4 linked regions of the Homo sapiens genome follow. The protein of the gene in region 2 interacts with the protein of the main gene of each other region in a biochemical or structural test. Each region holds a gene or a part of one and is shown on either strand. Other genes may lie near its edges. The genes, in order: ELN, CLU, TGFBR1 and LYZ.

What was found.
Region 1: the proteins of CLU (region 2) and ELN form a complex in vitro, tested with the Homo sapiens proteins (one study listed by BioGRID).
Region 3: the proteins of CLU (region 2) and TGFBR1 form a complex in vitro, tested with the Homo sapiens proteins (one study listed by BioGRID).
Region 4: the proteins of CLU (region 2) and LYZ form a complex in vitro, tested with the Homo sapiens proteins (one study listed by BioGRID).

What each region holds. Positions count from the first base shown.
Region 1 is NC_000007.14:74,045,166-74,052,191, forward strand, and holds part of ELN (elastin isoform a precursor), read left to right. Parts: intron 1-56; coding exon 57-128; intron 129-1,022; coding exon 1,023-1,052; intron 1,053-1,530; coding exon 1,531-1,602; intron 1,603-2,509; coding exon 2,510-2,551; intron 2,552-2,976; coding exon 2,977-3,036; intron 3,037-3,337; coding exon 3,338-3,391; intron 3,392-6,584; coding exon 6,585-6,674; intron 6,675-6,758; coding exon 6,759-6,818; intron 6,819-7,026. UniProt on the Homo sapiens protein: Major structural protein of tissues such as aorta and nuchal ligament, which must expand rapidly and recover completely.
Region 2 is NC_000008.11:27,597,693-27,604,718, reverse strand, and holds part of CLU (clusterin isoform 1 preproprotein), read left to right. Parts: intron 1-323; coding exon 324-428; intron 429-4,709; coding exon 4,710-4,939; intron 4,940-6,083; coding exon 6,084-6,259; intron 6,260-6,468; coding exon 6,469-6,478; 3' UTR 6,479-7,026.
Region 3 is NC_000009.12:99,100,916-99,108,136, forward strand, and holds the start of TGFBR1 (TGF-beta receptor type-1 isoform 1 precursor), read left to right. Parts: upstream 1-4,197; 5' UTR 4,198-4,290; coding exon 4,291-4,387; intron 4,388-4,659; exon of another isoform or gene 4,660-4,682; intron 4,683-4,898; exon of another isoform or gene 4,899-5,116; intron 5,117-6,120; exon of another isoform or gene 6,121-6,225; intron 6,226-7,221. UniProt on the Homo sapiens protein: Transmembrane serine/threonine kinase forming with the TGF-beta type II serine/threonine kinase receptor, TGFBR2, the non-promiscuous receptor for the TGF-beta cytokines TGFB1, TGFB2 and TGFB3.
Region 4 is NC_000012.12:69,344,528-69,351,380, forward strand, and holds the start of LYZ (lysozyme C precursor), read left to right. Parts: upstream 1-3,853; 5' UTR 3,854-3,881; coding exon 3,882-4,017; intron 4,018-5,580; coding exon 5,581-5,745; intron 5,746-6,853. UniProt on the Homo sapiens protein: Lysozymes have primarily a bacteriolytic function; those in tissues and body fluids are associated with the monocyte-macrophage system and enhance the activity of immunoagents.

The sequences.
Region 1 (7,026 bases), on a different chromosome or scaffold from region 2:
CCCAGCAGGGCCTGCAAGGCCTGCCTTCCTACACTCACTGCTTTGTCCCCCGGCAGGAGCTCGGTTCCCCGGTGTGGGGGTGCTCCCTGGAGTTCCCACTGGAGCAGGAGTTAAGCCCAAGGCTCCAGGTATGCAGCTGTCTGGACAGAGGGCTGATGGCAGGGACTCTCCAACCACCTTCTGGCCCCGGGTGTGAAATGGGGTGGGATCCTGGACTGGCTCAGGGCCCTCTGGGTGACACTTTTTATGTTCCAGCCCTGGGCAGCCTGGTGCTGAAAAACCTCAGAGTGTGGCTGGGCACACTGGCTCACACCTGTAATCCCAGTATTTTGGGAGGGTGAGCTGGGAGGATCGCTTGAGCCCAGGAGTTAAAGACCAGCCTGGGCAACATAGCAAGACCTTATCTCTACAAAAACATGATTAAAAAATTAGCCGGACATGGTCACACACACCTATGATCCCAACTATTCAGGAGGCTAAGACAGGAGGATCTCTTGAGCCCAGGAGATCAAGGTTGTCGTGAGCTATGATCACACCACTGCACTCCAGCCTGGGCAACAGAGACCCCGTTCCCCCGCAAAATAAGAAAGAAAGAAAAGAGGGCCAGATGCAGTGGCTCATGCCTGTAATCCCAGCACTTTGGGAGGCCGAGGTGGGCGGATCACCTGAGGTCAGCCTGACCAACACGGTGAAGCCCTGTCTCTACTAATAATACAAAAATTAGCTGGGCGTGGTGGCCTGCACCTGTAATCCCAGCTACTTGGGAGGCTGAGGCGGGAGAATCGCCAGAACCTGGGAGGCAGAGGTTGCGGTGAGTTGAGATCACCCCATTCCACCCCAGCCTGGGCGACAAGAGCGAAACTCCATCTCCGAAAAAAGAAACCCCAGAGTTCATGTGAGCGCAGCATGCGATGACTGGTCTGGGAAGAACTGGCCATTCCTTGGGCCTCCTGGCCCCTTGGTGCTGTCTGGCCCAGTGTCCACAGTTCCAGGGCTGTAGTGACAGCTTTTTATCATTACAGGTGTAGGTGGAGCTTTTGCTGGAATCCCAGGTGAGGCAAGGCTGGTGGGAGAAGCAGGGTGGCCAGCCAGGCAGAGGCTCTGGCGTTGGGAGGGGTTGGGCACCCAAGATCCCATCCAAGCCTGCCCAATTTCTCCCACGCCTGCAGAGCCAGGTCTTGCAGTGGCTGTAGCACAAAGTGGCACCCATCCCAGGCCTGCTCCCCCCACTGGCATAGCAGCCCAAAATTCAAAGGAGTCCAGAAAACCCTCCAGCCTGTGCCAAGGGCTGCAGGCCCAAACTGGGGCCCAGGCCCCAGGAGGGAGAGAATCCCGTAGCTTCCTGGAGGAAGTGGCCTGTCACTGGGAATTTCTCAACTGACCCATGATGGAGATTCAGGGAGTCCCTCGAAGCAGGATGGTTTCTGGATGCTGTAGCAAGCTCCTTCTGTCTGAGCAGAAAGTGGAGTGGGTGGCGGAGGGTTTGGAAGGGGGTGCTGGGACCTGAACTTGCTCTCTTTATTCCCACAGGAGTTGGACCCTTTGGGGGACCGCAACCTGGAGTCCCACTGGGGTATCCCATCAAGGCCCCCAAGCTGCCTGGTAAGTCAGAGGGACGGTTCAAGATGCACCACTCGGCCGGGTGTGGTGGTTCACACCTGTAATCCCAGCACTTTGGGAGGCTAAGGCGGGCAGATCACTTGAGGTCAGGAGTTCAAGACTAGCCTGGCCAACATGGCAAAACCCCGTCCCTACTAAAGATACAAAAATTAGCCAGGTGTGGTGGCATAGGCCTATAATCCCAGCTACTGGGGAGGCTGAGGCAGGAGAATCTCTTGAACCCAGAAGGCAGAGGTTGCAGTGAACTGAGATCGCGCTACTGCACTCCAGCCTGGGTAACAGAGTGAGACTCTCCTCCAAAAAAAGAAAAAGAAGAAAAAAAAAATGTACCACTCACTGCACCTCCCTGCACAGAAGTCAGCCTGGGTACAGGTGTCTCTGGTGGCAGGGAAGGGGTGTTGAAGCCCCTGTATGGTCACCAGCCAAGGAGAGCATGGGAAAGTCATCTGCAGGTATTGAACTCACACACACACGCTCATGCACAGAGACCCATAGTCCCGATCTGAAGCTATTAGGCTGGTGGAAAGGAACACGGTTCATTGGAAAGATCCCTCTAACATCCACCCACTCGTGCTCCCGCCCCTACCTCTGCAATCAGCTTAGACAATAAGATGCTTTCCACTGAGGAGGGGGTGTAAGGAAAATACTCAGACTCCAGGGCCATGATGGGGCTTGAATTTGTAGGGGGATGGGTGTTCCATGGGCCTCGGGGGCAGAGGTGTCCTCTCCCTCCTTCACCCAGCGCCTTTGCTCTCCTGGGAGCAGCTCAGGACCCTGATGTGGGAGGTCTCAAGCTTTAGCACCTGTGGGGGTAGATCTGTCCACCCAGGTTGGTGGGAGCCCAGCAAGGCATGGGGCAGCCCCTGAGTTTGCTCTGTCCTCTCTCCAGGTGGCTATGGACTGCCCTACACCACAGGGAAACTGCCCTATGGTGAGTGAGACCCTTCTAGACTGTGGGCTTCCAGCTCTTTCCCTCTCCAGGGTCCTAGCAAGGGTGCTGTGCTTCCAGCCCTGGGCCAGGAGAGCACCTCGCTGGGGCAGGGTTGGGGTCTTGGAGTGGGAATCTCAGAAGGAAAGGGCATGGAATTTGGACTCAGCATGGGTCTCCATCCCTGCCCTCCCACCTATCAATAATGAGACCTTAAGTGAGCTGTGTTGCTTCTTTGAGCCTCTGTGTTCTCATCTGTAAAATGGACATAACAACTCCATACATGTGTTTGTATTTGTTTTCACTCTGGCTGGGGGTGACAGGTGCAGACTCAGGACAGCTTGGGCCCCGAGGGCAGAGCAGGGGGAGGGGGAGGGCAGCAGTGGTGATGTCTGCACAGATGACCATCAAGCCTCTCTGTTTTGCAGGCTATGGGCCCGGAGGAGTGGCTGGTGCAGCGGGCAAGGCTGGTTACCCAACAGGGACAGGTAAGGAAAGCCTCACGTCACTTCCAGCCAAGGGAGCACTGATCTTCCAGGCTCCAGAGCCCTGGGGTGGGTGAGGTTCCCTCCTGAAAGCAGCAGCCCACCCTGCATCCAGACCCTGGTCCAAACCTGGAGCAGGATCCTGGGGGAGGAGTGGGGCAGCTCCATCAGCCTCTGCCTACTCTGAAGCTCCCATGTATACCCACATGTCAGTGGATTGGCTCTCTTGGGGCTGGGAACAAGTGGGCTCTGGAGATACAGGAGCACTGTTTCAAGGTCTCTCCCCTCTGCTTCCTTCCCCCAGGGGTTGGCCCCCAGGCAGCAGCAGCAGCGGCAGCTAAAGCAGCAGCAAAGTTCGGTGAGTGCCCCTGGAGTCCCCACCTGGTGGCCTCCAGGCCCCTAGCCTCTCCATTCCCATTACTATTGACAGCCTGCCTCCAAAGTGGCCCCTACATACCCCCATTTACTCAAAATTTTCAACATCACCCATCTATCTATCCCTCCCTCCAACCATTCTTCCATGCATCCATGTATCCATTCATCCTTCCATCAATCTATTACTTTCTCCATCCCTCCCTCCATCCATTCCCATTCCTCCATGCATCCATCTATCCATCCATCCATTCATGTACTCATCTGCCCATCCATGCATCCATCCACTCATCCGTCCATTCATTCATCCATCCATCTCTCCCTCCATCCATTCATCCATCCATCCATCCATTCCTCCATGCATCCATCTATCCATCCATCCACTTATCTATCCATTCATCTACTTATTTACACATCCATGCATCCATCCATCCATCCACTCATCCATCCACTCATTCATCCATCCATCTCTCCCTCCATCCATTCATCCATCCATCTATCCATCCATCCATCCATCCATCCATCCATCCATTTCTCCATGGATCCATCTATCCATCCATCTGTCCACACATCCATCCATCCATTTATCCATCCACCCACTCATCCATCTATCCATTCATCCACCCATCCATCACTACCTCCCTCCATTCATCCATCCTCCATTCCTCCATGCAGCCATCTATCCATCCATCCATCCACTTATCCACCCATTCATCCATCCATCAATCCCTCCCTCCATCCATTCTTCCATCCATCAATCCCTCCCTCCATCCATTCTTCCATCCATCCATCCACGCATCCATCCATTCCTCCATGCATCCATCCATCTATGCACCCATCCATCCATCCCCTCATCCATCCATCCATTTATCCATCCATCACTCCCTCGCTCCATTCATCCATCCACCATCTATCCATCTATTCCCCCATATACCCATTCATCCATCCAACCATTCCTCCATGCATCCATCTATCCCTCCATCCATTCCTCTAGGCACCCATCCATCCATTTCTCCATGCATGCATCCATCCTTCCATCCATCCTTCCATCCATCCATCCACCATCTATTCCTCCATGCATCCATTCATCCATCCATCCATTCCTCCATGCATTCATCCTTCCATCCATCCATCCACCCATCAATTCTTCCCTCCATCCATTCTTCCCTCTATCCATCCACTCATCCATCCATTCTTCCCTCTATCCGTCCACTCATCCATCCATTCCTCCATGCATCCATTCCTCCATGCATCCATCTATCCATCCATCCATTCATCCATCCACTCATCCATCCATCCATTTACCCATCCATCCACTCAATCCATCCATCCATCCATCCATACATCAATCCATACATCAATCCACCCATCCATCACTCCCTCCATCGATTCTTCCATCCATCCATCTGCCCATTCTTCCATGCATCCCTCCATCCATTCCTCCATGCACCCACCCATCCATTTCTCCATGCATGCATCCATCCTTCCATCCATTCATCCATCCATCCATCCATCCATCTATTCCTCCATGCATCCATCCACCCATCCATCCATTTCTCCATGCATCCTTCCATCCATCCATCCATCCATCCATCCATCCATCCACTCACCCATCTATCCATCCATCCATCCATCTACCCATCAATTCTTCCTTCCATCCATTCTTCCCTCTATCCATCCACTCATTCATCCATTCTTCCCTCTATCCATCCACTCATCCATCCATTCCTCCATGCATCCATTCCTCCATGCATCCATCTATCCATCCATCCATTCATCCATCCACTCATCCATCCATCCATTTACCCATCCATCCACTCGTCCATCCATCCATCCATCCATCCATCCATCAATCCATCTATCCATCACTCCCTCCATTGATTCTTCCATCCATCCATCCATCCATCTGCCCATTCTTCCGTGCATCCCTCCATCCATTCCTCCATGCACCCATCCATCCATTTCTCCATGCATGCATCCATCCATCCATCCATTCCTCCATGCATCCATGCACCCATCCATCCATTCACCCATGCATTCATTCATTCATTCATTCATTCATTCATTCATTCTTTCCTCCATGCATTCATCCATGCCTCCTTCCTTCCCTCCCTCACTGCCTCCTCCCACCCATCCATATCAGAGATCAGGGACAAACAAGAGTTCTCTTAGAGAATATAGCCACTGTTGTGGGAGTCAAGAAACGGGAGGCATTTTTTTCTACCTGAGGAAAGTTAGAAAGGCTTCCCAGAGAAAGTGACATGTGATTTAGGCCTTAAAAATAAAGATGGAGCTTACCATGTGGTTAAAACAGGAAAGAGGAGGCCAAGCAGAGGGAATGGGTACCACGGTGGTTAGAAAGATAATTTTAGGTGGTGCATATATAAGCATTTAAAATATTTAATAGTTATGTATCAATTTAATGTGTACTATAAAAATGTTAACTCACTGCTCAGGTCAGTGAGTTCTTGGCTAGCATGGCTGCAGATGGAACGTGGTATTCCTGTGCCCGTGCAGTGGGTGGAGTGGGCATCTGTCCCCTGCCCCAGGTAGTGCCCACCTCAGGGTCAGACCACTAGGGCTGAAGTCCTCCTTCATCCTCAGCCCCAGGGAAGCCCTTTCCTTATCTCCCCACCAGCCCGAGAGAGCGAGAATGTGGGGAGAAGCCTGAAGCTGGGCCTCCCAGTGGAGGCCCCGCAGGCCCCCCTCCCAGCACCCGAGGCTCCTTGGCCCCAGCGGCTGGTGGGGACGGCTGCAATGTGGGAGCGGGAGAGCAGGGCTGTGAGGGGCTGCCAGAGCCAAGCAGCCAGGCGCTTGGATTACAAACTTGGCTGCATCTTCGGAACACAGGGAGAGGAAGTCTTGAACATTCCTGCAGGGGACCCTCTGGCCCAGGGAGCGGCCACTTGTGGTTTCTCAGTATGTGGCAGTGATTAGAATGGGATTTGTCTGAAAACATACAAGTCCCTTAATGAGTGTGTTGAAATGGACACTTTGGGGGAGAGTCAAGGAACAGTGGAGTGGGGTGGGGGCCTCCCCAGACAGGCCCATCTGGAGACACCCGGGCCCCATTCCTGGATAAGATCACACTGGTGAAAACGCCGGCGTCTAAGTGGCCATCCTGCCTGTCCTCAGGAGGGTCCTTGGGAAACTACATTGCACTGTCCCCATCTCAACAGGTGCTGGAGCAGCCGGAGTCCTCCCTGGTGTTGGAGGGGCTGGTGTTCCTGGCGTGCCTGGGGCAATTCCTGGAATTGGAGGCATCGCAGGTAACATCTGTCCCAGCAGGGGGCGGGTGTGTCCTTGAGATGGCCACAGGGCAAGGACCTCACCCTCTGTGGCTGTGTTTTCAGGCGTTGGGACTCCAGCTGCAGCTGCAGCTGCAGCAGCAGCCGCTAAGGCAGCCAAGTATGGTGAGTGCCTCCCGGGGTGGCAAGTCCACGGCTCGGGCCCCTGCATAGACCTCGGAGACCCTAGCCGCAAAGCCAGATGGACTTGGCCTTTGTTCCTTCCCAAATATGCATTGTTCATGCCTCCTTACCTTTGCCCCTTCTGATCACTCTACCTGAGATGCCATCTCTATTGTTTTGCCCTGATTAACTCAGCAGAGGGAGGGGACCC
Region 2 (7,026 bases):
TCATTTGAGGCCAGGAGTTTGAGACCAGCCTGGCCAAGATAGTGAGACCCTGTCTCTACAAAAATAAAAACTTAAAAAATTAGCCGGGTGTGGTGGTGCACACCTGTAGTCTCAGCTACTCGGGAGGCTGAGGCAAGAGAGTCACCTGAGCCTGGAAGTTGGAGGCTGCAGTGAGCTATGATTGCACCATTGCATTCCAGCCTGGGCAACAGAGTGAGACCCTGTCTGTAAATTAAAAAATAAATAAAAATAACAATAGGAATCAGTGGAGTCCATCTCTGCATGGCTGGATGACTGACTCTTCTTCCCTCGTGTGTCCCCAGAAGGCGACGATGACCGGACTGTGTGCCGGGAGATCCGCCACAACTCCACGGGCTGCCTGCGGATGAAGGACCAGTGTGACAAGTGCCGGGAGATCTTGTCTGTGGGTGAGTCGGGGTCCAGACCACAAGCCGTCCCCCCTGATCCCTTGTGTCCTGGGGTCACTGGGGCCTCACTGGTGCTGCCTTTATGGAGTCAGACAGATAAGCGTTTGGATTCCAGCTCTGCAGCCTTTGAGCTGTGTCCCGGGGCAGGTCCTGAGCCTCATGCAGCTTCGGTTCCTCATCTTAGAATGAGATGATGATGCGAGGCTGTCCCTGAAGTCGGTGAGATGTCGTTAGAGATGCAAAAGTGCCCTCCACCTGGTCGGCCCCATGTTGAAAAAAGCTTGTTGAAAAAAGTCATCCCCCTGGGACTCCCCGGTGATTCTGTTCCCAAGCGCCAAGCGCAGTAGGCATCTTCATTTTCCTCTGCAGATTATGACATTGCAGACAGTATGTGTTTTGTTTAACAAAACTGACCAGAGGCCAGGCACTGTTCTAAACACTCGACATACATTTCCTCATTTCCTCAGAATGACCCTCTGAGGAAACTGAGCCACAGAAAGGTTAATAACTTATCCAAGATTGACCCCGACATGGGCGAGCTGGGCTTCAATCCTAGGGCGCTGTGTTCTCTCCTGGGGCCCCTCGCAGCCTCTGGCCACAGAAGTCACGGGTCTCAGTACCTGGGCATCCAAGCAATAGTCCCTTTGGTCGGTTGGTTGGTCCCCTAGGCAAAGGGAATATTTCCCTTTAACTGTCCCCCTCCGTTTCACCAGCTCTGGTTATGGGTTAACTTCTTTCCACTTAGAGATAACAGCTGTGACAGTATTTGGACTAGTTCCTGGTACACAGCAGTTCATACTCACAAAGAGTTAATTGTTTCCCCTTGTCAACAGCTTATCGATCTGGTGGCTTTGCTCTTACTTAATGCTTAGTTTGAGTTTGCCATGGCAGGCCGCCAGGGTCTAGTTAAACATTCCTAGCCTCACTCCTATAATTTTAGAAGCCACTGCAAAATAAACAGTTGTGCTTTAACAGGCTGAAGTATAAGTTGCTGTAGATGAGTGCACAACCAGGCCTTGGGGCTTTTTCTATAAAAAATATCATAGAGTGGCATCAATTACATGGTACCTCACCACAAGAAAGTCATGTTAGGGTCTGAGAAAAGATGTCCAGATGCCTGTGCCCAGATTGGACCTCTTATGCTGATTTTTACTCTGTTGCCCAGGCTGGGCTCAGGTCTGGCGCCAATCTTAACAGTCATTGATTACAGTTGAGAGTGCAGCCAGCGCCAGTCTTATCAGTCATTGATTATAGCTGGCGTACAGTGGCTCTATCTCGGCTCACTGCGACCTCCGCCTCCTGGGTTCAAGTGATTCTCCTGCCTCAGCCTCCCAAGTAGCTGGGAGTGCAGGTGTGCACCACCACACCCAGCTAATTTTTGTATTTTTAGTAGAGACAGCATTTCACTATGTTGGCCAGGCTGGTCTTGAACTCCTGACCTCAAGTAATCTGCCCGCCTCGGCCTCCCAAAGTTCTGGGATTACAGGTGTGAGCCACTGTGCCTGACCTGAGATAGATTCTTAGAGAATTATTGGTAAGAATAATTCTCTAAGCTGAGCTAAATAGTCTACACTGAAGAGGACTGCCTACTGTTATTTAAGGTGCTTGCAACCATATAAGCACGTACTGCCTGGGAACTCTAGATGAGGATTTCTCAATTTCAGCGCTGTTGATTTTTTTTTTTTTTTTTGAGACAGGGTCTCTCTCTATCACCCAGCCTGGAGTGCAGTGGCACCATTACAGCTCACTGCAGCCTAGACCTCTTGGGCTGAAGTCATCCTCCTGCCTCAGCCTCCTGAGTAACAGACTACAGGTGTGCTCCACCATGCTTGGCTAATTTTTTTATTTTTAGTAGAGATGGGGTCTTGCTACATTGCCCAAGCTGGTCTCTAACTCCTGGGCTCAAGTGATCCTCCTACCTCAGCCTCCCAGAGTGCTGGGATTACAGGTGTGAGCAGTGCTGACATTTTGGACCAGGTCATTCTTTGTCGTTGGGGGCTGTCCTGAGCAGTTCAGGGTGTTTGGCAGCATTCCTGGCCTCTGCCCACTAGAGGTCAGCAGCTCCCTTCCCTTTGTTGTGACAACCAGCTTCAGAACTTGCTAAATCTCCCTGGGTGACAGCGTCACCCCAGTAGAGAACCTCTATTCTAGACTAAGCCTCAGCTCTCAAGGATTTTTCTTATTTTATTATTATTTTTTTAAGACAGGGTCTCGCTCTATCACCCAGGCTGGAGCGTAGTGGCGCAATCTTTGCTCACTGCAACCTCTGCTTCCTGGGTTCAAGCGATTCTCCTGCCCCAGCCTCCTGAGTAGCTGGGATTACAGGCGTGCACCGCCACGCCTGGCTAATTTTTATATTTTTAGTAGAGACAGGGTTTCACCATATTGGCCAGGCTGGTCTCAAACTCTTGACCTCAAGTGATCAGCCTGCCTCAGCCTCCCAAAGTGCTGGGATTACAGGTGTGAGCTAGTTTTTCTTATTTTTAAATTTTTTTTTGGTAAAATAATGAAGTTTATTTATTACATATTTATTTTCAAACTGGCATCTTGTTAGTAATTCTGTTTCTTTCCCCACCTAACATTTTGTTTACTATAAATGATTGCAGTCATCATCCTAAAGCATATGCAAAATCTCCCTTCCCCTGACTCACGTTTGATGTACCTGCCTCTGGATATTTTTGAAATACCTTAGGGGGAGAAAAACAGTAGTTTTAAGAGCTAGTGGACAGTTTCCAGGTCTTAATGAATCTGACAACCTGCAGCCCAGGGCCAAGAGGAATGAATTCTCTTTTCCCTGCTCTCTTGATGAACTCACTGACCAGCCATGGGCGGGCAGGTGGGCAGGCAAGGACCCCTGGCCACCAGGTGCCAGTGCATCAGCTGCATGAACTCCTGGCACCAGAACTGCCACCTCTACAGACATGCTCAAAAGACAAGTTTGGACCGGGTGCATTGGCTCACACCTGTAATCCCAGCACCTTGAGAGGCCGAGGTGGGTGGACCCCTGAGGTCAGGAGTTTGAGACCAGCCTAGCCAACATGGTGAAACCCTGTCTCTCCTAAAAATACAAAAAAATCACCCGGGGGTGGTGGCAGGCACCTGTAATCCCAACTACTCTGGAGGCTGAGGCAGGAGAATTGCTTGAACCCGGGAGGTGGAGGTTGCAGTGAGCTGAGCTCGCGCCATTGCACTCCAGCCTGGGAAACAAGAGCGAAATTCTGTCTCAAAAAAAAGACAAGCTTGGAGGATTGTCCAGAACCACAGATCCAGGGTAGGAAAAGCCCAAGCTTAGGAGCTGAAGACCCTGGTTCAATCCCGGGCCCAGAGATCATTTATTCTATGGCTTTAGGTAAGCTATTTATTGATACTTCTGTGGGCCTCAGTTTCATTATTGGTAAAAATTATTTCATTATTGGTAAAATTAGGACTTAAGTCCTAATCCTTAAGTCAGAACAGATCCAATTCTTAGAGAAAAAGGATATCCAGAGAGAACTTTCTGCGGTGTCTGGGACGAAGGCAGTGCCACACGAATGGCAGCTGTGAGTAATATTCCTCCTCTCTGGAAATGATTCCCGGGAGGGACTAGGGCAACGAGAGCCACTCCAGGTCTGAGAACATGGAGAACTTGAGATCAGTGCTTTTGGAAGTGTGGTCAACACAGTTTGTCACCAAAGAGATAAGGGTCTGGCACCCAAAGATAAATCAATGATGTTACGAAGCACACTGTTTAGGTCAGTTGGCGTATTTTTCCAGAGCAAGGCTTCTCAGGCTGGGCGTGGTGGCTCACACCAGTAATCCCAGCACTTTTTGGGCAGATGGGTTGAGCCCAGGAGTTCGAGACCAGCCTGGACAACACAGAGAAACCCCGTGTCTACAAAAAATACAAAAATTAGCTGGGCATGGTAGCATGTGCCTATAGTCCCAGCTACTCAGGAGGCTGAGGTTGGAGGACAGCCTGAGCCTGGGAAGTCAAGGCTGCAGTGAGCCGAGATCTCACCACTGTATTCCAGCCTAGGCAACAGAGCAAAACTCTGTCTCAAAAAAACAAAAACAAAAACAAAAAACCCAAAAGACTTTCTGGATGACGGAAGCAGTGTCTAGATTCACATTCTGAGGCAAAACCTTTATTTTGTCGTGGACAATTCCAGTTTGTGGCCCTTCCCTTAGGGAAGCACTGCTTTTGTTCCCGCTGCATGTGCTAACTTCCATTCATTCATGGTTCTATCCCTTTGTAGCCTTCCCTTCACACTTCTCACTTGCGTTTCTTCCATCTCTGGGCAGACTGTTCCACCAACAACCCCTCCCAGGCTAAGCTGCGGCGGGAGCTCGACGAATCCCTCCAGGTCGCTGAGAGGTTGACCAGGAAATACAACGAGCTGCTAAAGTCCTACCAGTGGAAGATGCTCAACACCTCCTCCTTGCTGGAGCAGCTGAACGAGCAGTTTAACTGGGTGTCCCGGCTGGCAAACCTCACGCAAGGCGAAGACCAGTACTATCTGCGGGTCACCACGGTGAGCTGTGTCCCGGCCACATGCTGTGGCTCGGGAGCCCGAGCTGTGATCGGGAGCAGGGGCATGTGTGCTTTTGACTGAGCATTTATCACACGGCAGAAAATAGAAAACTTTAGGCGCCCCTGTTGCCTTGAAGCCTCATCACCCACTCAGGGAAAATATAACCCTGCTTTACAAAGGAGCAAAGTAAGAGAGGTTCCACAGCTTGGCCAAGGTGTGATAGCTGACAGATGACTTGGACGGGTATTTGAACCTGACTGCCTGGCTGCCAAGCCTGTATTTTGTTGTTGTTGTTTTTGTTTTGGTGCACAAATCTGTGAATAAACCAGAAGCCTCTGTTCTTTTCTCAAAGCTACAAGGCTGCCCTCTGGCATGTAAAATGGCTTATGAATTAGTACATCACTCTCTGCCAGTGATAAAAACTTCTCTCTAGGCCAGACATGGTGGCTCATGCCTGTAATCCCAGCACTTTGGGAGGCAGAGGCAAGAGGATTGCTTGAGGCCAGGAATTTGAGACCAGCCTGGGCAACACAGCAAGATTCCCTCTCTACAAAAAATACAAAAATCAGTCAGGTGTGGTGGCACACACTTGTAGTCCCAGCTATTCAGGAGGCTGAGGTGGGAGGATTGCCTGAGCCCTGAAGTGGAGGCTGCAGTGAGCTGTGATCACGCCACTGCACTCCAGCCTGGGTGACAGAGTGAGACTCTGTCTCTTAAAAAATATATATATATAAAATAATAAAATAAAGTTAAAAAATCAAATAAAACTTATTTCTAGTACTGGGAACTCTTCTTTTTCTTTTCTTTCTTCCCTCCAGGCCCTCTGGATTCCTTTTCTACCCTACTCTGACCAAGGGCTGCTTCTAAAGCAAATGTTTGGAAACCACTTTTATTCTTTGGGGTGCTCCCTGGGCTGGTCATTTGCAGATGACATTTGCCCCAACACATGAGTGTCTGTGAACCAGGTCCGTTCTGTCCACTGAGCTGTACTTACGTCTAGATGTATAAGAAGCATGGGGTCAGCTCTCTAGGTTTCCTTGGAGAAGCAGGAGGACTTCCTTATCAGAAGCCTGACTTCTGTTGCAGAGCGCATGCATTTTGACCACAGTGTTTCAGCTCTTCCCTTTTCTCTTGTTCCATTTAGGTGGCTTCCCACACTTCTGACTCGGACGTTCCTTCCGGTGTCACTGAGGTGGTCGTGAAGCTCTTTGACTCTGATCCCATCACTGTGACGGTCCCTGTAGAAGTCTCCAGGAAGAACCCTAAATTTATGGAGACCGTGGCGGAGAAAGCGCTGCAGGAATACCGCAAAAAGCACCGGTAAGCAGGCGGGCCTTTCCTGCGGGCCTGCAGGGCCCAGTGAGTCTCTGGGAGCCACAAAAAAACAAACAAAGTGCAGACTCTATAGCCTGGTGGGAACGACTCCGCCCGGAGCCAGAGCCCAAGAACAAAGCCAGGAAGTTACGGGGGAATTTTATTTTTCCTTTGGAGGATGTTTTACTTTGGAGGATAACTGTTTTTTATTTCAGGGAGGAGTGAGATGTGGATGTTGCTTTTGCACCTACGGGGGCATCTGAGTCCAGCTCCCCCCAAGATGAGCTGCAGCCCCCCAGAGAGAGCTCTGCACGTCACCAAGTAACCAGGCCCCAGCCTCCAGGCCCCCAACTCCGCCCAGCCTCTCCCCGCTCTGGATCCTGCACTCTAACACTCGACTCTGCTGCTCATGGGAAGAACAGAATTGCTCCTGCATGCAACTAATTCAATAAAACTGTCTTGTGAGCTGATCGCTTGGAGGGTCCTCTTTTTATGTTGAGTTGCTGCTTCCCGGCATGCCTTCATTTTGCTATGGGGGGCAGGCAGGGGGGATGGAAAATAAGTAGAAACAAAAAAGCAGTGGCTAAGATGGTATAGGGACTGTCATACCAGTGAAGAATAAAAGGGTGAAGAATAAAAGGGATATGATGACAAGGTTGATCCACTTCAAGAATTGCTTGCTTTCAGGAAGAGAGATGTGTTTCAACAAGCCAACTAAAATATATTGCTGCAAATGGAAGCTTTTCTGTTCTATTATAAAACTGTCGATGTAT
Region 3 (7,221 bases), on a different chromosome or scaffold from region 2:
TTATCAAAAAAAATGGAGTCTTTTTCCCCACCCTTTGAATTTGGGCTCAGCCCCAGTTCATGCCCAAACCAATGGGATATGGTAGAAGTGATGTTGTGCCAGTGGATGTTTTTTTGTTTTGTTTTGTTTTTGAGACAGGGTTTCACTCTTGTCACCCAGGCTGGAGTGCAGTGGTGTAATCATGGCTCACTGCAGCGTTGACTTTCTGGGCTCAAGCGATCCTCCAACCTCTCAGCTTCCTGAGTAGCTGAGACTACAGGTGTGAACCACTATGCCTGGCTAATTTTTGTATTTTTTGTAGATAAGTGGTTTTGCCATGTTAACCAGGCTGGCCTCAAACTCCTGGGCTCAAGCCATCGCCCCATCTTGGCCTCCCAAAGCGCTGGGATTACAGGCATGGGCCACCATGCCTGGCCGGTGCCAGTTCTAAACCTAGACTCAAGGCTCTTGCACGCTTTCATTCATTATCTTGGATAATGAATGTCATGTTATCAAGCCTAGGCTAGCCTGCTGGAGGATGAAAATCCACATGGAGGAGCTGATCTAGCTCATTACCCTCTTCCACCCCCTTCCACCTGACAACCGACTCATAAGTGAGCTCAGTGGAAATCAGCATAAATTGGCCTAAACCTGAAAAACTGTCCTACAGTCTCATGAAAGATGATATATGGTTATTATTCTAAGCCACTAAATTTTGAGGTGGTTTGTTTTTCAGTTAGGAGCACCAAGAATTAGCAATAGCTAATAATGGCAGAAGTCAATAATGTCTTGTAGGTTAGAAAATAAGATAGAAATAAAATATGCAACAATAAATAGGATGGACAAATGAGCAGAATAGAAGCATTCTAAGGTGAATAAAAATAGATTAATTTTTCTCATATAATAAGAAATAAGCATTATGGAGCTGGTGCAGTTATTCAAAGTGAATAAAAAATAGATTAATTTTTCTCATATAATAAGAAATAGGCATTATAGAGCTGGTGCAACTGTTCAGGAAATTTATCAAAAACCTAGACTCTCTCCATTTTTTCTCTCTACAGTCCTCAGTTTTGGCTATCGCCTTTATGTTTACAAAATGGCTGCTGTACCTCCAGGCATTGCAACTGTGTTCCAGGGAGAAAGAGAGAATATGATGAGTCTCTTCTTTTTTTAACTAGGAAGTATCTTTTGTACAGGCTCCGCCTTGTGGAAAGTAGATTTCTGTTTACATGTCACTGGCCAGAACTCTTGTCACATGGCCATACCTAGGTACAAGGAGCCTGGGAAATTGACATATATATTTTTTCTAGGTGATCTGCTTTCCCAAAGAAAAACAGGACTCCATTATAAAGCAAATGTAAGAATGGGTGTAGTTTAGATGACAAGCAGTCTCTGCTCTCTATTTTGGAGAAATCCTCTTACTTAAGGAACTAATCCAAAAGGAAAAGCAAACAATGTCCTTGGCATAAAGATTAAGAGACAACATTACACAGGGTACAAGGCACTGGAGTGAGACTCCTAGTCCTAGCTCTGCAGCTGACTTGCTGGGGAACTGATCCTCAGTTTCCTTCCCTTTAAATTAAGACATTGGAGTAAATAACATGTAAGCATTTTAAACAACAAGTAAGTCTGTAAAGACTGAAGGGAATTAACATTTATGACAGATTCCTTAATGTGCAATAGCTCATTTAGACCTCACAACAGTATCTCCCTTTACCCTGGGGGATGCTAAATCTCAAAGCAGTCAAATAGTGTTCCCAGACCCACATCTAGTGAGTGGCAGCCAGAATTTCAAGTCGGGTCTGTAGGCCTCCAAAGCCAGAGGCTTCTTTCTACTGCCCATCCAACCTTTCTCAAAAGGCAAATAAGGTCATGCATTTTTATTTACTGAATTTTAAGTAAAGCAGTGTCTTTTGAAGCGGGCCCAGTGCCACTTGCAGCAGAATCACCTGGGATGTCTATTACAAATGCAGATTCCTGAACCTTCTCCACATGAACTGAAGCAGACTTGCTAGGGCCGAGGGAGACCCAGGAATCTGTATTATTACAAGCTCTCCAGGTAATTGGAGAGACTTTACAATTTGGGAACCATGATTTTAAACTAATAATTTAGTGTTCCATTCTAGTGTAGTTTATTTATGGATCTGTGGCTCATGGAAATTTCCTCCTAGTATCAGGAAGATACAACTTAAAAATAGTCTGTTTTTCCTTCCTATTGTATCCACTGAATTCCACGGAAAATGTTAAGGAACTGGAGGTGTGATTAACACTGATTAATCTAGGCTCCGTACGTCAAAGGCACAGACTGACATGAACATACATGCTGATTAGAATCATACAGAGCTGGAAGGGGATGGGCAAAGAAATGGCATTAGCTAAATATTTACTATGTTCCAGACACTGTACCAGACACATTACGTCATTTAAGGGGCCCAAGACAAGTGATTCAATCCCTTTTATTTATAAACGGGGTAGGTACTATTATTATTTACATTTTAGAGATGAAGAAGCTAATGGCCAGAGAAAAACAGTCACTTTCTGAGATCATTCATTCATTCATACAATAAAAATCTCATTAGCTCTTATCTTATGAAAGACATTGCAAATAGAGCAGCAAAAAGGCAGTCTAGGGACCTCAGGTGGCACAAAGTCCACCAAATCTCCATTGAAGAAACTGGAACTGAGAGGGCAAATTGGGACTGGAGCCTGCCAGAAGCCATCTCTCTGGAATCCCTCAGCCTGAGCAAGAGGGGAGTTTGCTGCTGAGGCTGCTGGAGCTGCGGTGTAGAGCAAGTTGCAGGCCTCTGAGCCTGTTGGAGGTTCAGAAAGGTTAGCTGACTTGCTTAAGTAAGTGTCCTAGACAGGAGGGAGAAAGCGCGCGGGTCTCAGATCCCAGCTCCAATATCCACGCCTTTTCCCTTTTCATCTCCCGGAAGGAAGCCTTCACAGGTGGGGAAAATGCTCACCCAGTGACTCTAAAGTAGTGCACAAATTGGCATTAATCAGAACCATTCTGATTCCTGCTATCAAGGTTTATTTAATTCTAAGCTCAAATGACACAGAAAATAAAATTTCCTCCTTAAAAGGTTCTGCGGAAAAATATTCTCTGTTCTACGTAACAGCCTCCTTGGCTGTGTTTGTGTCTGAAGAAAGGACTAGTCTGACAGGAAGAATTACAAATCTGGAGCTCATTTTGGCGTCGCAGAGGGAAGGTGGGTGGAGCGTCTCGCAGTAAATTAGGAATTCAGAATGAAAACGTAGAGTTTATTTGGGTTTTTAGTGACACCTCAGGATTATTATACAGCAGTGTCAGACACAGCTCAAAGTAATGATGACTGCTCCCCCTCCGCCCCGCGGGAGCTGGGTGCTAAGAAGGGGGAACCCCTCCTTTGAGGGGTTGGGGTGGGGATCCTCCCTTTCCAACCTGGATCGGGAAGGGGTTTGAGAGGAGTGCGGCTTGGATCCCCATCCTGGATCTGTGCTGGAGGGAGGCGGGAGGCTATTTGGGGGTGTGTTTGGGCTCAGGATCTGGGTCTGACGCTGGGATCTGAGGACTTTCTGGGTTTGGAACTGGGTGGGGGAGCTGGGTTTGGGGTGACCGCTGGGAGCAGGAGGAAATAGGAGAGTGAGTCGCATGTGAAGGGCACTGAGGAGGGATCTTCGGGGGAATGCTGAAGTTGATGCGTGGACTTGGAGAGGGGAAGTTGAAGTGGATGCAGGGGCCTGGCGCTGCAGCGGATCTGGGTGGCATGTGCTGGGATTGCCAATGCGGAGCTGTGAATGGGGTCAGGGTGGGGCTGAGGCAGTACCAGATCTTCCGCGCCTAGAGGAGGTTAGAAGAAAAGAGCGTCGAACGGCCACAGCCTTTTTCCGAAAGAGACTCACACAGACACACCCATCGCTCTACCCGGCCCTCCGGGGCTAGCGGCTGAGCGGTGCTGGGGCTGGCAGACCCCGCCCCCACGCGGCCTCTCGGAGCCGGGAGCCGATCGGGCCGGGGCTGGGGTCTGGCGGCCCAGCCCCCGGGGAGCGTGGGGCGTGGCCAGAAACCGGCGCTCGCGGCTGCGGATTGGCTGCCTGGCGGGCCCGCAGGCGGGGCTCCCGGCTGGGTCCCGCTTGGCAGCTCGCGGCGGCGGGGAGGCGGGGCCGGCGGGAGCCCGGCAGCCAATGGACGCGCGTCCTCCGAGCAGTTACAAAGGGCCGGAGCGAGGCCGCCGCGGCGGCTAGGGAGGTGGGGCGAGGCGAGGTTTGCTGGGGTGAGGCAGCGGCGCGGCCGGGCCGGGCCGGGCCACAGGCGGTGGCGGCGGGACCATGGAGGCGGCGGTCGCTGCTCCGCGTCCCCGGCTGCTCCTCCTCGTGCTGGCGGCGGCGGCGGCGGCGGCGGCGGCGCTGCTCCCGGGGGCGACGGGTGAGCGGCGGCGCGGCGGGCGGGCGACTGCGGGGCGCGCGGGCCGGACCCGGCCTCTGGCTCGCTCCTGCTCTTTCTCAAACATGGCGCGGGGCCGGGGGCGCAGGTGGCGGCGCCGGGGCCCGGGCCGGGCTCTCGTGGCGCCGCGCGGCTCGGCGGCTGCCGGGCGAACCGCAAGCGGGGAGCGGAGGCGGGGCAGGGGCGTGTGTCCGGGCGCGGGCGGACGTGTCCGGCTGCCCGAGGCCGCCCCGCTCGGGACTCCCCGGGGAGGTGGAGTCGGGCGGAGTCGTCCGAGGTCCGGGGCTGCCCTCTGGGGTGTGAGTGGGCGAGGGCCAGGGGCGGAGAGTGCGAGGCCGGCGGGGACTGGCAGAGCCGTGGCTGCCCGCCGCCGCCCCCTGGGCACGGCGTGACCTTGTTCTGGGGACCCCCGCCCCAAGAGGGTCCGTGCCAGAGGCTGCCGAACCCGGGGCGGGGTTTGAGGTTGGGGTGGAAGGCGGCTCCCGGGCGGGGTGTGAGCTCCGAGCCTCTAGGGCTTCGTCCAGTGGGAGTCGGGGGCGACGTGTGGTGAGACCCCTGGGTCCGCAGGCCGCCCTGACTCCCGCCCGGCTCGACCCGAGCCGACCCTGCTGGAAGGGGCTGCTCCTCCAGCCAGGGGGGCTTTGTGTGAGAAGAAGGAAGCGCGGAGATGCGCGGAATGTTTCTTCTTTCGTGCGTCTGGGGAGTGTTGAAGTGAGTCCAGTAACCAGACGGCTACGGATTGTTTTCATAGTGGAAACTTGAACGTTTGCTCATTCTGCGGGTTTTGGAAATTTTGGGAACGACTGTGAATTGATTAAACGCTTTTTATTTCCTCGAAGGAACATCACTCACGTTGTTCCTTTTCTTGAGTGACAGTTAATAGTTTGATTCAGACATCTGTATAGCTGGTTTTCAAGGAAGACTGTTGGCTGGATTTTTCAAAATAGTAAATCAGGTTGGGGTAGGTGGTTGGTATCCACAAAGGGATGAGTGAAAAACTTCGTTAGCAGCTGAACTGAGACACTAGAAGCTAAAATACACAGCCTCAGTGTTAGCAACTAAAATGCAGTGAAAGTACATTTCTGTTTCTGAAACTGGACAAAAGATGTTGAAATTTTTTTAAAAAATCAAGACTGACGGTGACGATTATAATCAGTCCTAATAGCTACCGTCTATGTATTGTGCATTACTACGATGTAAATGCATACACTATTGTATAATTACATTATTTAATCACCACAAGTAAACTCCCAGGAGTAGTGGCATTTGCCCCACTTTACAGATGTGCAAAGTGGGGTACAGACACGTTAAGTACCCAATAACTTAAGTGCTAAAGCTAGGATTTTCACTCAGATCTCAGTTTCCCAAACCTGTATGTCATATATATATATAAATATGTATACATCATACTATCTGGCGTAGCCCATTTTTCTTCTTCAGTCGTCTGATGAGCAATTGGTCTTTATTATCCACTTTGGATTCTGTCCTCATGATTTGAGTATCAGATAGGCTTCATTCCGACTCTTAGCACATTGTTGAGTCCCTTCACGTGGGCCTGCATTAGAGGAAACAATGGATTTTTGACATTGGCCTAGGGAGGAAGGCAGGATAACTGTGTGGACATTTGGGAGAATCAGTATAGTTAGGCATGAAACACAGGTAACATTTCCACACCGCTATTAACTTGAATAACACAGTGCACTCTTTTCCACCAGAAGTAGCACAAGAAGCGTTCATGTATTCAAGTAACAGTAGTGGACTTAGTTGAAGACACAGAACATTGCTCAGTCCATGTCCTGGAGGAGTTTACAGTCTCCATGGTATGCACAAAATACAAAGCTGTCCAGGTGCTTATTACTCTAAGCCCAGACTGCCTCAGCTTGTCTGCCTCCCCTGTTGGTTATGATGATGCCTCAGTCCACCCTTAAAAAACATTCTGAAAAAGGTCAAATGCTTTTTATTTCCTCTGTAACTTGGCTTCCCTTTTAAAGACTTGCACCTTTTTATGTTCTGAGTATGTTTTAATGTTCTCTGCCCAACTTCTGTCTCCAACATAGGTTTCTCTAGGGAAATTGATTCCTTATCCCTAGTGCACAGTTTAGTACCACTATGTCTATATGTATATCCCATCTGAGAATGCTATTTGCTTCCTTTCTGCCATTTCATAACTTTTTTTCTTTGAAAACGTGCCCCCAATCCAACTCTTCTATGAATGCCTCTTGAATGTCTCCTCCTTTCTTGGTATGCAGCCTTCAGCTTAATCCTGCCTGTTATCCTCCAAATCTAGTTGCTTTCCCATGTTTTTCTCATCTAGGCTTTTCTATGGCTACTGCCAAACTAATCTTCCTCAGCCTTCCCCGTGAAGGTTTATAAGATTTCCCATTTGTATTCAGCACTTAGAACAACACTTAGCAGCTTATGATTGGGGCCATCTCTGAGTATCCTACCAGGGATCTCATTTCTCATTACTGCAGACCTTCGAGCAATTTCTCTTTCTCACTGACTCCTGACTGTTCAGCCTTTTCACTACACATTTAGTTTTGCCCCTTTTTTTGGGAGTGCGAGAAGTTCTCAGCCCTGACTTCCTGTGCTGGTTTAGTTCTTGAATTCTTTGTCTTCCAGAACTCTGCAACACTTAACAGTTTGTGTTGTCCATTTCTACTGCCTGTGCTGCTACTTAACTCTACTTGAATGCGTTATAGGTACCCAGAGGACAAGATTCATGCCATTTCTTTCTTTTGTGGCCTCAGAACTTAGCACTGTGTTTTATATTCTATTCCACATAAATGCTTGTTGATTTCTATTTGAGCATTCCT
Region 4 (6,853 bases), on a different chromosome or scaffold from region 2:
GGATCACCTGAGCCTGGGAAATCAAAGCTGAAAAAACATAATTGCACTGCTTCACTCCAGTCTGGACAACAGAGTGAGACCCTGTGATATAGTTTGGTTATTTGTGCCCATCCAAATCTCCTGTTGAATTATAATCCCCAGTGTTGGAGGTGGGGCCTGGTGGGAGGTGTTTGGGTCATGGGCGCAGATCCCTCGTGGCTTGGTGCTGTCCTGGTGATAGTGAGTGAGTTCTCACGAGATCTGGTTGTTGTAAAGTGTGGCCCCCGCCAACCCCCGGCAACTCTCTTGCTCCTGCTCCACCACGTGAAATACCTGTTCCTCCTTCACCTTCCTCCATAATTGTAAGCTCCCTGAGGCCTCTCCAGAAGCAGATGCTGGTGCCATGCTTCCTGAACAGCCTGCAGAACCATGAGCCAATTAAATCTCTTTTCTTATAAATTACCCAGTGTCAGGTATTTCTTTATAACAACATAAGAATGGCCTAACAGAGCTGCGTGCAGTAGCTCCTGCTTGTAATCCAAGCATTTTGGGAGGCTGAGGCAGGAGGATTGCTTAAGTCCAAGAGTCCAAGACCAGCCTGGGCAACACAGCAAGACTGTGTTTCTACTAAAAATTTAAAAAGTTGGCCAGGTGTGGTGGCACACACCTGTGGTCCCAGCTACTCGCCTGTGGTCCCAGCTACTTGGAAGGCTGAGGCAGGAGGATTGCTTGAGCCCAGGAGTTCACGCTGCAGTGAGCCAAGATTGTGCCCTTGCACTCTAGCCTGGGCAACAGAGCAAGACCCTGTCTCCAAAACAACAAAACAAAACAAAACTGGCCTAACACCCTATCTAAAAACAAAACAAAACAGAGGGCTATAGCACATTCTTTAGAATATCTTAAATTATGGCAAATCTCCATCTTTTCAGGATGGTTTTAGTTTTGGGGAATAGTCAAAAGTGTGAGAAACCCTTGGTCAAATTCCCTTTCCTAGGCCTGAAGCCCCCAACACTCACCATAAATAATTATTTTTCTCTATCTTGAGAAACAAATAAGTTGAGTAAATCATGACTATTGCCCATTGTAATACAACAAAGTAATCTAGGGTCTGTAAGCAACTTTCCTAAAAAGATAAAATGCATACATTGCATCAAAAAGAACATGCAGTACATACAAAATTTCTGAGGAAGAAAAATTATCTCTGCCCTCAAATCATGCTTACTTGCTATTTTATTTTTAAATAGATTGCTCATTAAACCTACCTCAAATGGAATGACAGGATTATAAATGGATGTTATAACTGCCCTTAACTTCTTCCCCAGGGGAGATAATTAAGGGGATCAAAAACACTTCTTCCCTTTGCAGTAGTCACATGATAACATGCTATCACTTTGGTTCAGGTTGGCAAGCAAATATTTGCTTGTTCCACTTCCAAGAAAGTATAAGGTCATAACTATTTAAACATTTGAAAACAAAAATTAATCTTATCAGCATAAGGCTGAAACCAGCATATGTAATAACTGGCTGTTCTTTAGTATTGAGTTGGGAACGGCATAAAGGGGACCAAAGACTAACTCTTTTTTTCCTTCTTTCTTTCTTTTTTTTATTTTTGAGACACAGTCTCACTCTAGTTGCCCAGGCTGCAGTGCAGTGGTACGATCTCAGCTAACTGCAGCCTCAACCTCCTGGGTTCAGGTGATCCTCTGACCCTCAACCTCCCGAGTAGCTGGGACTACAAGCACATTTTTAAATTTTTTTTTATTTTTAGTAAATATAGGGTTTTGCCATGTTGCCCAGGCTGGTCTCCAACTCCTGGTCTCAAGCAGTCCTCCTGCCTCGGCCTCCCATAGTGCTGGAAATACAGGCATGAGCCACTGCGCCCAGCCAAGACTAACTCTTTTAATTGGTTTCTGTCTCTTTGGGTCCTGAAAATCTGTCTCACTATTTATTATTATTATTATTATTATTATTATTTGAGACAGAGTCTCACTCTCTTTCCCAGGCTGGAGTGCAATGGCACAATCTCGGCTCACTGCAACCTCCGCCTCCTCGGTTCAAGCGATTCTCCTGCCTCAGCATCCCAGGTAGCTGGGATTATAGGCACCCACCACCACACCCAACTAATTTTTCTATTTTTCGTAGAGACGGGGTTTCACCATGCTGGCCAGGCTGGTCTCGAACTCCTGACCTCAGGTGATCAGCCTGCCTTGGGCTTTCAAAGTGCTGGGATTACAGGCATGAGCCACCGCAGCTGGCCATTTTTTTTTTCTTTCTTTTTTTTTTTTTTTTTTTTGAGACAGAGTCTCACTCTGTTGCCCAGGCTGGAGTGCAGTGGTGTGATCTCAGTTCACCACAACCTCCGCCTCCCGGGTTCAAGTAATTCTCCTGCCTCAGCCTCCCAAGTAGCTGGAATTATAGGCGCACCACCACGCCCAGCTAATTTTGTATTTTTAGTAGAGACGGAGTTTCACCATGTTGGCCAGGCTGGTCTTGAACGCCTGACCTCAGGTGATCCACCCACCTCAGCCTCCCAAAGTGCTGGGATTACAGGCATGAGCCACTGCACCTGGCCCTATTTATTATTGAAGAATCAAAATTAGGCCTAGCCTGAAAAATGAGATTATTCTTGATTTTTGAACAGGGTCCTTGAACTGTCATTTAAAACCAAATCTGGTAATCTTTAGAGGCCACTGATGAAAAATAAGGGTAACTACAAAGTGATGACACTTTGTGTGGCTCAGAATCTGTCCTCTTAGGCAGATACAGAAGTGCAGTTCTTTTTGAGTTCTGGTAGCATTGTTTTAAAAGCTGTGCACAGCCTCCTGAGATTGCTATTTTCAAAGGTAGCATTTAGTTGGATATATGTTTGGGTAGGTTTTATTTTTAAAATGCTGTTGCTTTCTAATGACCCCTTATGTTCTAATATGGAAAGGGGAGGCAAAGTATTGTGAAAAGTAGTTGGTAAAGTAGGCCGGATGTGGTGGCTCACACCTGTAATCCCAGCACTTTGGAAGGCCGAGGCGGGCGGATCACGAGGTCAAGAGATCCAGACCATCCTGGCCACATGGTGAAACCCTGTCTCTACTAAAAATACAAAAATTAGCTGGGCATGGTGGTACATGCCTGTAGTCCCAGCTACCTGGGAGGCTGAGGCAGGAGAATTGCTTGAACCCGGGAGGCAGAGGTTGCAATGAACTGAGATTGCGCCACTGCACTCCAGCCTGGTGACAGAGTAAGACTCCATCTCAAAAAAAAAAAAAAAAAGGTAGTTGGTAAAGTTGTTCACATGAACCTTATTTATAATAGTAAAACACTGATTTATAATAATAAAAAATTTGCTATAGTAACAAAAAGAGTCTAGAGTAAGAAACTAGCTGAGCAACGTGGTGTCACACTATACACCCATTAAGACAACAGGCACATGTGTCATGTCCATTTTGTGGAAAAGATATGTAAAATAATTTTAAGTAAAAAAGATAAATATAAAAAAGTGAATGCATACAAAACAATTTCACAAAATTGAATGTTACTCAAAAATCACAGCTCATTTTAAGCTGCACAAAATAGTCATTTTTTTCTTTATAATTGCTCAAATTCATAATCAAACAGAAGAAAGTTCCTGTCTTGGAAGTAGTGCTATGCCCCAATTCTTCCAGAGCCAGTACTTTAAACAATTCCATTTCATTATTTTCCTGTAGACTAATTCTTAGGACATCAGCATATCTCTCTTCAAGCATTAAAAAAATCTCTTTAGAGTCAGTGGATCAATAGACAGTTCCTGTTTTCCACACAACTGAAAGGGTGGAGCCCCCAAACCACAAGGGGAAGAAGGAAGTTAAAAGATGTTAAATACTGGGGCCAGCTCACCCTGGTCAGCCTAGCACTCTGACCTAGCAGTCAACATGAAGGCTCTCATTGTTCTGGGGCTTGTCCTCCTTTCTGTTACGGTCCAGGGCAAGGTCTTTGAAAGGTGTGAGTTGGCCAGAACTCTGAAAAGATTGGGAATGGATGGCTACAGGGGAATCAGCCTAGCAAACTGTAAGTCTACTCTCCATAATTCCAGAGAATTAGCTACGTATGGAACAGACACTAGGAGAGAAGGAAGAAGAAGAAGGGGCTTTGAGTGAATAGATGTTTTATTTCTTTGTGGGTTTGTATACTTACAATGGCTAAAAACATCAGTTTGGTTCTTTATAACCAGAGATACCCGATAAAGGAATACGGGCATGGCAGGGGAAAATTCCATTCTAAGTAAAACAGGACCTGTTGTACTGTTCTAGTGCTAGGAAGTTTGCTGGGTGCCTGAGATTCAATGGCACATGTAAGCTGACTGAAAGATACATTTGAGGACCTGGCAGAGCTCTCTCAAGTCCTTGGTATGTGACTCCAGTTATTTCCCATTTTGAACTTGGGCTCTGAGAGCCTAGAGTGATGCAGTATTTTTCTTGTCTTCAAGTCCCCTGCCGTGATGTGGGATTTTTATTTTTATTTTTATTTTATTTTATTTTATTTTTAAAGACAGTCTCACTGTGTGGCCCAGGCTGGAGTGCAGTGGCATGATCTCAGCTCACTGCAACCTCTGCCTTCTGGGCTCAAGTGATTCTCGTGCTTCAGCCTTCTGAGTAGCTGTGACTACAGGTGTGTACCACCACACCCAGCTAATTTTTTGTATTTTCAGTACAGATGGGGTTTCACCATGTTGGCCAAGCTGGTCTTGAACTCCTGGCCTCAAATGATCTGCCCACCTCAGCCTCCCAAAGTGGTAGGATTACAGGTGTGAACCACTGCACCCAGCCGACATGGGATTTTTAACAGTGATGTTTTTAAAGAATATATTGAATTCCCTACACAAGAGCAGTAGGAACCTAGTTCCCTTCAGTCACTCTTTGTATAGGATCCCAGAAACTCAGCATGAAATGTTTTATTATTTTTATCTACTCTACTTGATTAACTATCTTTCATTTTCTCCCACACAATTCAAGATGTGCCATGAGGAAAAGTTATTTTATAGTTTAGTACATAGTTGTCGATGTAATAATCTCTGTAGTTTTCAGATTGAATTCAGACATTTCCCCTCAATAGCTATTTTTGAATGAATGAGTGAAGGGATGAAATCACGGAATAGTCTTGTTTTCAAGATTCTAACTTGATATCCAAATTCACCTTTAGATATTATAAGAAAATTTCTATCAGAAAATCCTTATGTTTTTCTGATTAAAAAAAGCATTTTTCCATCAGCCTATGTATCTGCTATGAATTTACAAAATCTACTCAACAGCTCTGTTGATTTTTCTGTTCTTGGCTGAATGTTGCCTGAGGGATGGGAGCACGGGAAGGGTAAAAGCAATGGAACAAACATGTATTTTAATATTTTAAAAGTATGTTATATTGTTCGTTGGTGTTACAAGATGATTTGCATTACAAAAGGATTCTCTTACAAGTCCCTTATCTTAACACTAAAGTGCTAAGATATTTTATAAGTAAATCTTTATACTTATAAAACAAATCAGTAAAATAGAAGTAGCTAAGTAGAACTGATTTTGCTATAGAGTATAAGTCACTTAGTGTTGCTGTTTATTACTAAAAATAAGTTCTTTTCAGGGATGTGTTTGGCCAAATGGGAGAGTGGTTACAACACACGAGCTACAAACTACAATGCTGGAGACAGAAGCACTGATTATGGGATATTTCAGATCAATAGCCGCTACTGGTGTAATGATGGCAAAACCCCAGGAGCAGTTAATGCCTGTCATTTATCCTGCAGTGGTAAGACAAGCTAATATTTGACCAATCTGGTTATACTTACAAGAATTGAGACTCAATACAAATGAAAAAGCCTTGAAAGGTTCATGAGGGACCTAGAAAAACTACATCTCAACTTCCAGAAAGTCATTATTATTTTCCTCATAATTCCCTGAGTAAGAAATTAAAGAAGTGGTATCATAAAAGGTTGATGTTTTTTAATATACAGAAGTTTCTGGAATGACCTATTAATTTACTGTCAATGGCCTTACTGATGCTTTGTCCAGAACAATGCCATTGCTCCTGCTTACTTTGGGGAGGTTTTGGGATAATTTAGTTGTATGGTCCTTTTTCAATTGTTTTACTTTTTTTTTTATGAAATGTTCTAAATGTATAGAAAATTAGAGACATTAGTATAATAAACAGCCATATGCCCATTATGCACTTTAAAAGTTGTTAACATTTTGCCATAGTTGCTTCTTCTATGCCTTTTTTTTTTTTTTTTTTTTTTTTTTTTTTTTGCTGAGAGTTTTTTGTTTGGTTTTGTTTTGTTTTATTTTGAGACAGGGTCTCCCTGTCCCCAGGCTGTAGTGCAGTGGCACCATCACAGCTCACTGCAGCCTCAAGTGATCATCCCACCACAGCCTCCCAAGTAGCTGGGACTACAGGTGTGCACCACCATGCCTGGCAAATTTTTGAAATTTTTAGTACAGGCAAATTCTGTGTTGCCCAGGCTGGTCTTGAACTCCTGAGTTCAAGCAATCTTCCCACCTCAGCCTCCTTAAGTGCTGGAATTACAGGCGTTAGCCACTGTACCTGGCTACTGCTGAGAGACTTTTAAGTGAATTAGGAACATGATGATATTCCATTTCTAAATTCTTTAGTTTACATCTTCAAAAAATACAGTTCCTGTAGAATTATTATTGTAAATAACAAATTAACTTAAGGATTTATTTATTTGGAGTGAAACAAATATTTTACTGAACTCATAAAAATAGAAATACCATGTGGAATCCTCAGTGTCAAAAATATTGCAGAAATCTTGCAAAGTTGATATTATTAAATTGTTAAATATTAAAATTCCCAATAAAGAACATTAATCTTATTTCTAAAATCCAGTTAATTAAAAAAA